Linked DNA regions of Homo sapiens: region 1 is linked to region 2. Evidence: fine-mapped expression QTL. A gene starts in region 2. The other region holds a variant in brackets. All regions are shown on one strand. Distances are between the middles of the regions. Region 1 has its middle 12 kb from the start of BATF2. Region 2 holds the start of ATG2A (autophagy related 2A).

What was found.
Region 1: its variant is fine-mapped to the expression of ATG2A in whole blood (TOPMed, PIP above 0.99).

What each region holds. Positions count from the first base shown.
Region 1 is chr11:64,982,398-64,987,767 of GRCh38, forward strand. No RefSeq gene overlaps it. Among named protein-coding and RNA genes, the nearest start is that of BATF2, 12 kb to the right of the region's middle. The variant T/C (reference allele first, on the strand shown) is at 2,413.
Region 2 is chr11:64,914,058-64,919,427 of GRCh38, forward strand. ATG2A (autophagy related 2A) reads right to left here and starts at 3,152. Exons shown (of 41, transcript NM_015104.3): 1 at 2,908-3,152; 2 at 281-443; 3 at 24-176. The coding sequence starts at 3,078. It also overlaps a transcript of PPP2R5B not described here. RefSeq lists a silencer at 3,064-3,373 and an enhancer at 3,424-3,553.

The DNA.
Region 1 (5,370 bases), 68 kb after region 2:
ATCTTTTCCTAGAGAGTTGTTTGGGCTCCTTATATATTCTGGTTATTAATCCCTTGTCAGATGGGCTGACCTCTTCTTACCACCTCACTGCTTCCATTCACACCCCTGAACAATCTGATCTTTTTTAAATGTCGGGCTCCCTGATTCATGGAAAAAAGGCAATGCCCTTGCAGTGGTCTGTATGATCTGGCCCTTGGTTACCTCTCTGACCTTATCCCTGACCAACTGACCATCTCTGACCCTCCTTCATTCCCTCCCTCCAGCCACACCAGCCCCCTGGCTCAAATGTTTCAGGCTCACACCTGCCCCCAGGCCTCGGCACTGGCTGTTTCCTCTGCCTGGAACTCATCTCCACCTGGCTAATTCACTGCCTTCTTCAAGACCTTGCTCAAATGTCCTCTGCCTTTTTTTTTTTTTTTTGAGACGGAGTCTCACTCTGTCACCCAGGGTGGAGTGCAGTGGCGTGATCTCTGCTCACTGCAACCTCCACCTTCTGGGTTCCAGAGATGCTTGTGCCTCAGCCTCCCAAGTAGTGGGGACTACAGGCATGCGCCACCATGCCCTGCTAATTTTCTTTTTTCTTTTCTTTCTTTCTTTTGTTTTTGAGATGGAGTCTTGCTCTGTTGCCCAGGCTGGAGTGCAATAGCATGATCTCAGCTCACCGCAACCTCTGCCTCCTGGGTTCAAGCAATTCTCCTGCTTCAGCCTCCCAAGTAGCTGGGATTACAGGCATGTTCCACCATGCCCAGCTAATTTTTTTTGTATTTTTAGTAGAGATGGGGTTTCATGTTGGCCAGTCTGGTCTGGAACTCCTGACCTCAGGTGATCCGCCCACCTTGGCCTCCCAAAGTGCTGGGATTACAGGCGTGAGCCTCTGTGCCCAGCTGCTAATTTTCTTTTTGTGTGTGTGTATTCTTAGTAGAGAAGGAGTTTGAGTTTTGCCATGTTGGCCAGGCTGGTCTTGAACTCCTGGCCTCTAGTGATCTGACCACCTCAGCCTCCCAAAGTGCTTGGATTTGAAGCCACTACACCTGGCTTCAAATACTCTCTTCCTATTGAACTGACGTTGACCACTCATTTTATTTTATTTTATTTTATTTTATTTTATTTTATTTTATTTTATTTTATATTTTATTTTATATTTTATTTTATATTTTATTTTATATTTTATTTTATTTTATTTTATTTTATTTTATTTTATTTTATTTTATTTTATTTATTTTATTGAGACTGAGTCTCGCTCTGTCACCCAGGCTGGAGTGCACTGGCGCGATCTCGGCTTACTGCAACCTCCACCTCCCAGGTTCAAGTGATTCTTGTGCCTCTGCCTCCTGAGTAGCTGGGATCACAGGTTCCTGCCACCACACCTGGCTAATTTTTGTATTTTTAGTAGAGACGGTGTTTTGCCATGTTGGCCAGGCTAGTCTCGAACTCTTGACCTCAAGTGATCCTCCCACCTCAGCCTCCCAAAGTGCTGGGATTACAGGCATGAGCCACCGCGCCTGGGCGACCACCCTATTTTAAATTGTACCTTCTCCACCCTGACCCTCTCAATTCCTCTTTTCTTGTCTTACCCCTCTTGACCCAGCTTCCCTATTAAATATAAGCATTTTTGTCTGTTTTGTTCTCTTCTTTATCCCAAATGCCTAGGATAGTGTTTGAAAAGAGGAGCTGAATATATTTTAAATGAATTTAAAAATCAGAGGCTGGGCACGGTGGCTCACGCCCGTAATCCCAGCACTTTGGAAGGCTGAGGTGGCTGGATCAATTGAGGTCAGGAGTTCGAGACCAGCCTGGCCGACATGGTGAAACCCTGTCCCTACCAAAAATATAAAAAATTAGCTGTGCGCGGTGGCAGGCACCTGTAATCCCAGCTACTCAGGAGGCTGAGGCAGGAGAATCTCTTGAACCCAGGAGGCAGAGATTGCAGTGAGCCAATATCGTGCACTGCACTCCAGCCTGGGCAACAGAGCAAGACTCCGTCTCAAAAAAAAAAAAATCAGTGTACATCTCTGTTTAAAATTCTCCCACTCACGGCTGGGTGTGGTGGCTCACGCCTGTAATCCCAGCACTTTGGGAGGCTGAGGCGGGCAGATCACGAGGTCAGGAGATCGAGACCATCCTGGCTAACACGGTGAAACCCTGTCTCTACTAAAAATACAAAAAATTAGCTGTGTGTGGTGGCAGGCGCCTGTAGTCCCAGCTACTTGGGAGGCTGAGGCAGGAGAATGGCGTGAACCCGGGAGGCAGAGCTTGCAGTGAGCTGAGATCGCACCACTGTACTCCAGCCTGGGCAACAGAGCGAGACTCCATCTCAAAAAAAAAAAAAAATTCTCCCACTCACACAGGAAGAATCTCACATCCTTCTCATGGCTTACACAATTTTTCTGGCCTCTTCTCAGACTTCATCTT[T/C]CCTTTTCTCTTCCCTGATTCTCCTCCTCCTTTCTTTTCTCTTCTTCTTCTTCTTTTTTTTTTTGAGACAAGTCTTGCTCTGTCACCCAGTGTGCAGGGGCATGATCATGGCTCACTGTAGCCTTGACTTCCTGGGCTCAAGCAATTCTCCCATCTCAGCCTCTCGAATAGCTGGGACTACAGGTGCATGCCACCACGCCCAGCTAATTCTTTGAATTTTTAGTAGAGACAAGGTCTTGCTTTGTTGCCCAGGCTGGTCTCAAACTCATGGGCTCAAGCCACCTCGGCCTCCCAAAGTGCCGGGATTAGAGGTGTGCACCACTGCGCCCAGCTGGCCTACTCCTTTCTGTTCCTCTAACATGTTTAGTGCTTTTTCTTTTTTTTTTTGAGGCGGAGTCTCGCTCTGTTGCCCAGGCTGGAGTGCAGTGGCGCCATCTCGGCTCACTGCAAGCTCCACCTCCCGGGTTCACACCATTCTCCTGCCTCAGCCTCCTGAGTAGCTGGGACTACAGGCGCCTGCCACCACGCCCGGCTAATTTTTTGTATTTTTAGTAGAGACAGGGTTTCACCGTGTTAGCCAGGATGGTCTCAATCTCCTGACCTTGTGATCCGCCCGCCTCGGCCTCCCAAAGTGCTGGGATTATAGGTGTGAGCCACCGTGCCCAGCCTACGTTTAGCGCTTTTTCCAGACCCGGAGTTTTTACACATGGTATTGCCTCTGAGTGGCATGTTCTTTCCCTAGATCTTTGCATGGCTGACTCTCTCTTGTCATTCTCATCTTGTCAGGTCTCATCCTGAATGACACCTCCTGAGAGACCCTTCCCTTGAATTCTCTATTTTTTTTTTTTTTTTGAGGCAGGATCTCACTCTGTCATCCAGACTGGAGTGCAGTGGCTCGATCATGTCTCACTGCAGCCTCGACCTCCCTGGCTCAAGCAATCCTCCCACCTCAGCCACCCAAGTAACTTGTTTTTCCGCCCAAGACGGAGTGTTGCTCCATCGCCCAGGCTGGAGTGCAGTGGTGTGATCTCGGCTCACTGCAACCTCTGCCTCCCGGGTTCAAGCAATTCTCCTGCCTCAGCCTCCCGAGTACCTGGGATTATAGGCACCCGCCACAATGCCCAGCTAATTTTTGTATTTTTATTAGAGACAGGGTTTCACCATGTTGGCCAGGCTGGTCTTGAACTCCTGACCTCATGATCGCCTGCCTTGGCCTTCCAAAGTGCTGGGATTATAGGCGTGAGCCACCGCGCCTGGCCAAGCATTCTTTATTCAGCTTTTCAGTAGTCCATCACATGAGTGTACCAGCATTAATTGAATCACTCCCATCTATTTGTTTGAGGGTGGGGTAGAGTTTTACCTTCTTGGGTCATATCTATTAGCATGTGCTGCCCCTGAAGTCTGGGCCTGCAATGAGAATCCAGGAAGGTTGAAGGCTGGGTTGCCTGCAGCTAAGGGCTCCTGATTGTTGAACCAAGTCTATATAGTTTCCTAGCTATGTGACCTTGGACTTATTACTTACTACCTCTGGACCTCAGTTTCCCTTTCTCTCTCTTTCTTACAGCTCTAGCTCAAAGACAGTTTCCTCTTCTGAACAGTGGGGTTGAGAAGCATACGTCACAGAGTTACTAGAGGCATCATTGAGTTAATCCAAGTAAAATAGCACAGAGCCTACTATACTTTAGGGTATACAGATACAGCACGACCATGCTGTCCTCATCCTCCACTGAGTCCTCGTGCCCAGAGTATGTTGAATCCTGTCCCAGACTCCAGCCCACCTCTAACCAACAGCACCTTCGCTTCCCTCCCACCTGTTTGCTTTCCCTGAATCGCTGGTGACCATGGCTCTGCTGCCATCCACAGCCCTGTGACTTCCCTTTGCTATGTGAACCTGGCACAATGGTTACTTGTATGTGTCCTCTTGGCTGGGCCACAGTGCCCAGATATGTGGTCAAACATTATTCTGAATGTTTCTGTGAATGTGTTTTTGGACGAGATCAACATTGAAGTTGGTGGGCTTTGAATAAAGCAGGTTGCCCTCCATAATGTAGGTGGGCCTCATCTAATCGACTGAAGGCCTGAATAGAACAAAAAGACTAACCTTTTCCAAGCTAGAGTAAGTTCTGCAGCTGGTGGCCTTTGGACTTGAACTGCAACAGCAGCACTTTCCTGGGGCTCCAGCCTGACAATTCACCCTGAAGAATTTGGACTTGCCAACCTCCATCATCACATGAGCCAATTTCTTAAAATAAGTCTCCCTTGGCAGGGCGTGGTGGTTCACGCCTGTAATCCCAGCACTTTGGGAGGACAAGGCGGGCAGATCACTTGAGGTCAAGAGTTCGAGACCAGCCTGGCCAACATGGTGGAACCCCATCTCTACTAAAAATACAAAAATTAGCTGGGCGTGAGGCTGGGTGTGGTGGCTCATGCCTGTAATCCCAGCACTTTGGGAGGCCGAGGCAGGCAGATCACAATGTCAGGAGATCGAGACCATCCTGGCTAACATGGTGAAACCCTGTCTCTACTAAAAATACAAAAAAAAAAAAAAAAAAAAAATTAGCCGGGCATGGTGGCAGGCGCCTGTAGTCCAGGAGACTGAGTCAGGAGAATGGCGTGAACCCGGGAGGCGGAGCTTGCAGTGAGCCGAGATTGCACCACTGCACTCCAGCCTGGGCGACAGAGCGAGATTCTGTCTCAAAAAAAGGAAAAAATTAGCTGGGTGTGGTGGTGGGCACCTGTAATCCCCACTACTTGGGAGGCTGAGGCAGGAGAATCACTTGAGCCCGGGAGGCGAAGGTTGCAGTGAGCCGAGATTGCACCATTGCACTCCAGCCTGGGTGACAAGAGTGAAACTCCATCTCAAAAAAAAAACAACATTAAAAAAAAAATCTCTCTGTCTTCACACACACACACACACACACACACACACACTCTATTGGTTCTATTTCTCTAGAGAAC
Region 2 (5,370 bases):
GCGGCCAGGAGGGGCCTGCTCACCAGTCTCAATGGTCTGGGCAAACATCTCCAGCCCCTCCAGGGGCTGTGGTGGCTCAGAGGGCTCCGGTAGCCCATCCCGCAGACACTCCTGGGCCAGCTGCAGGCTTGTGGTCATGCATGAGGCCCAGCTCTGTGAGTCGGCAGCCCCTGGCGCTGTAGGGAGAAACAGGGTCTCAAGGCAGGCAGGCCCAGTCAGGTCCTGGACGCCCCAGCCCACTCTCCCCACTTGCCTGCCCCCAGCCTCGCCCTGCCCTCACCTGGACCCCGGCGGGGCTGCAAGGTGAGCTGGAGGCCGGACACGCGCACTGTGCAGTGGTCGGTGAGCAGAGCAGCCCAGGGCACGGCCACCTCGATGGAGCCCACGAAGCCTTCCACCAGCTCCAGCGGTGACTCCATTGACTCCAGCACCTCGTTCACAGACTGGGAGCAAGCAAGAGACAAAACCAGCTCAGGGAAACCCCAAATCCCACAGGCTGGCACAGCCTTATCTGGCCATAGTGCCTTGGAGAGCACCCTTGGCTTGCCCTGTCCCTCCACGTGTTATCTACAAGGTCCCACCTATGCTCATGCTGTCCCCTACTACAGGCCAGCCCCCCTACCCCGTCACCCAAAGGTGCCTAATCCTTCAAGCCAGAGCAGATGTTTCCCTCACCACTTAATTCAAGATAATATTTACCGAGCACTTTCTACATGCTGACACTGAGACTAGATGGGTAAATAAAATGTCTTCATTCCCCAGCCAAGCTAGGCTCCAGCCAGGGACTCAGAGCAACTAGGATGAAACTCAAGAGGTGAGCAGGTGCTTGGGGGTGGTGAGGGGGCTGGTGGGGGGGCCGTGGGGAAGACGCCTAACCCAGCCTGGGCCGTCAGAGGAGGGGCAAGCTGAAGAATAAAGGGAGGGGGGATAGGCGCTGGTAGAAGGTGGTGTGTTGCAGGCACAGGACAACATGGGCACATGTATGGCAGAGTCCAGAATACCCATGTTCACCCTGGATGAGCAGAGTTCAAAGGGACAGTGTCCAAGAGAGGGGCTGACCTAATGCCAGATGGGACCCCCCCCCCCCACCACCAACCCCAAACACCTAGTGTAGCTGTGCCTCTCTGTGAGGCACAAGGCTGAGCCCCTGGCTAAAATGTCCATGCTGGAGTTGTACCCCTGCCAACCTGGAAGCTCCTGGAGGGCTGTACCCCACCTGCCTCCCCCGTCACCCCAGGTGCCACCCAGAAAGGGCCTCAGTAAACTGGTTGGATCCAAGAATAAAAAAGCACATGGCAGAGCAGATGGGAGTCCAAATTCCTCACCCAGAGACCCACAGCTCGGGAAACTGAGGCCTAGAGACAGGACTAATCTAGTCACCCAGTATACAACAGGGACTGAGACTGGGATGCGGGCCTCTTTCTTTTCATGCCACTTCAGAGGCCCCAGATACTCAGTTTCTTTGGGGGCCTTCAAGGCGGGGCCTGCAGGCTGAGCTGGGAGGGAGGAGGGGCTGGTTATCAAGAAAGCGCCTGCATTCCACCAGGGCCCTAGAGAAGCCAATTCAATCCCCAACAAGAGGGCAGGGAACAGGAGTAGGGGCGTTTTCTGGAGCTGAAAGTAAAAAGGGGAAGCCTAGGGCTGGGTATGGTGGTTCATGCCTATAATCTCAGCACTTTGGGAGGCTGAGGTGGGAGGATCCCTTCAGGGGTTCAAGGCTAGCCTGGGCAACATAGCGAAATCCTGTCTCTATAAAAATAAAAAAGGGGCAGCCTAGAGACGGCCTTAGAGGCTGAGGCTAAGGTTAGAGGTCAGAGAGGGCTTCCTACACCAGAATTCACAGACAGCAGGCCACTGGGGGGTGCCCCCAGTTCAGGGCCCACGATTATCCTACCCCACATTTGCTCACCAGGGCCTGGCCTACCCCCAAAGCCTAGCTCTTCTGCCCAGATTAGCAGCCCCCTGAGTCCAGCCACAAAACTGAGAAGTCCCTGCCTCCATGCCCACCCCTGCTGCTCTGGACCTGGTGGATCGACCAGGACGCGCCTCTAATTGGTGGCTCCTTCAAAGCTCCCCAGGTCAGCTGAGCTGTGAGTCAGGGCTCCTCACCGTTCCCAGCCTCAAGCCTCTGACCTTACACCTCTTGGCCTCCCTAGCATCTCCCTTGGCCTCCTCCCGGCTTGAAGCCAGATCTCCCCACCTTTCCTCCAGGGCCTCCCTCCAGGCAGGGACACTGAGCCGGGGGGGTCGGTGGGAGATGTAGGTGGGGGCCATCCAGTCCCTCCCTAGACACCCACTTGGCCCATCCCACTCTCCCAAAAGCAGGAAGTAGGCAGCGACCCAGGCACACGAGGTGTTGATCAACACTGGTACTGACGTACTGACGCGGTTGTTGACATACACATCCGGTGGTTTGTTGATCCCACCTACGGGCTCAGGACCGTGGGGTCAAGAGGTCAGGGCACATGATCCACAGGTGTCCTCGCCAGGGCTCCGGACCCCTACCAGCTTCCCCCACCAGCTGCGCAGGCCCAAGTCTGTCACTGCCCTGGCCCAGCTCAGTTCCTACGCTCCCTCCCCAGCCCCTCCTCAGCCCGAGAGCCAACCTCCTTAACTCAGCCCCCAAACTCGACGAGTTTGTCTTGCATTCTCCAGACAGGTGATCTTGCCCTCTCCAGCCTCAGTTTCTCCTCCCGTGGAGACAGAAACCCCTTCCCGCTCAGTTTCTGGCTCTGGTAAGGAACTGAAGAGGCCAGCCGGGGTGCCTCTGACGCCTGGAGAGGGCAAGATTCCCCTGGCCTCTCTACGCCCGGTGCCTGATCCCCCAGCCCGATCCTGCCGCAGGGAGCCTCAGGTCGCTGCGCTCCCACCCTCCGCACCTTCCTGGACTCGGGCCTGGCTCCTCACCCAGATTTCCAGGTGGATGTCTCGCAGGGCAACGCTGCCCTTGTACAGATCGAGGCTGAGCTGGTCCAGGCTGAGGTGCTCTTGGAAGAAGTGACCTAAGTAGTGGTGCAGCAAGTAGCGGCAGACCCGCTCTTTCACACAGTTTGACCATGGCCACAGCCATCGTGACATCTCGGAGACCGCCGGGCCTGGGCCGCCTCCGCTTGCCGCCCGCCGGCGATCCCCGTCCGGCTCCGCTGTTCACTAGAGCCCCCGGCTCGCCCCGCCGCTTCTCTAGGCGCCAGGCCGCGCCTCCGGACGCCCAGCCACGCCCCCTACGCTCACTGTCATTGGCTATTGCAAAGGGCGAGGCCTACTGATTGGCTGCGCGGGGCGGAGCCTTCGGGCGCGAAAAAGGGACTGGGCTCTCTGCATGATATAGGGCTCTCAATCATGATTTACGCTTGCGTAAAGTACTGTGTGGGAGGACCTTTAACCTCCCCTCTACAGGCTCTGGGAAGGCTGTTGCTCCAGGTGCCGGCCCCTCAAAGGAATGCGCATGTGCTGATTCGTCCAACCACTTTAAGTGGTTGGGGAGGATTTAAAGGGACAGTGTCCCATCAAACTTCGTAGAAGCCTTCCCCAGAGGAGTAAACTCAGTGCGCGATCTTAAGCGCGCATCTGTGGAAACAATTAAGTGAGTAAACATTCGCATTTTGCAAAATCTTTTACCATCCTTTATCTCATTGAGCCCTCTTAATAATCGCTCAAGGTAGGGATTATTGCCACCGCTTTACAGGTAAGAAAACAGATTAAGATACGAGAAAGACCCTGCCTCAAAAACAAACAAAAATAAATAAGGGCTCTGAATCCATCACCAAGGAAGGTCTTTTTTCCCCTCCTCACCCCGGAATGCTCAGAGGGAGATTAACTGACCCTCCCTTCTCTCTGCCGTCGGTCAGGCCTTAGGCACCTCTCTGAAATAATAATAGCTTTTCATATCTCTAGTCCTAAAATCAAAGAATGGATTCTGCCTCCTTTAAGCAGGGGGGCATTGTTTTTGTACGGCCTTTGAGCTAAGTATGGTTTTTATGTCTTTTAAATGGTTAGGGGAAAAATCAAAAGAAGAATGAACTTTTCATGGCATGTGAAAAATCATATGAAATTCACATTCCAGTGTTTATACATAACGTTTTAGTGTCACACAGTCTTGCTCATTTGCTTAAGTTCTGCCCCGGGCTGCTTTCTTGCTACAAGAGCAGAATTCAGTACTTGAGACAGAGGCCTGCAAAGCCTAAAATATTTATTTTCTGGCCCTTCACAGAAAAAGTTTGCCAACCGCTGCTCTGTAGGGGGCAGCCACACAAAACCTCTTACATCATGGGCGACTTCAGGAACAGCCATAGGTAATTATGTTTCTTTTCTTTTCTTTTTGAGACAGACTCTCTCTGTCACCTAGGCTGGAGTGCAGTGGCACAATCTTGGCTCACTGCAACCTCTGCCTCCTGGGTTCAAATGATTCTGCTGCCTTGGCCTCCCAGAGTAGCTGGGATTACAGGCATGCACCACCGCACCCAGCTAATTACCGTGTTGGGCAGGCTGGTCTCGAACTCCTGACCTTAGGTGATCAGCCTGCCTTGGCCTCCCAAAGTGTTGGGATTACAGGCACGAGCCACCGTGCCCGGCCTATGTTTCTATTTTATTTATTTTTTTTGAGACAGAGTCTTGCTCTGTTGCCCAGGCTGGAGTGCAGTGGTGCAGTCTCCTCTCACGCAACCTCTGGCTCCTGGGTTCAAGGAATTCCTGAGTAGCTGGGATTACAGGTGTGAGCTACCCCACCTAGCCTGTGTTTCTATTTTAATCTTACTTGGGAGCTGGACTCTTACATTCTAATGCCAAAACTCAGCCTGAAGCAAGGGCAACCGCCCTGGCCCACCGGGCAGGGACCTGTATTCCAGTCCCACCCATGGGTGGTTTCTTCTCCTCTTGTGACCCTCAGTTTTATCCTATGTAACTGGGGTTGGGTTAGTAAGTGGAGATAGTTCATTACCTGGAAGGAGCAGGCTCCATTCAGGGAGGCAGGCTGATAGGACAGCCATTCAGAAAGTGCTTATGGGCCAGGCACGGTGGCTCATGCCTGTAATCCCAGCACTTTGGGAGGCCAAGGCGGGTGGATCATGAGGTCAGGAAATCGAGACCACCCTGGCTAACACAGTGAAACCCCATCTCTACTAAAAAATATTTAAAAAATTAGCAGAGTGTGATGGCGGGCGCCTGTAGTCCCAGCTACTCGGGAGGCTGAGGCAGGAGAATGGTGTGAACCTGGGAGGCGGAGCTTGTGGTGAGCCAAGTTTGTGCCACTGCACTCCAGCCTGGCTGACAGAGCGAGATTCTGTCTCAAAAAAAAAAAAAGAAGAAACTGCTTGTGGAAGGAATCTAGAGCTCTGCCTTCTTCCATGGCAGGCTGGGGGCAGTACTGTGCTC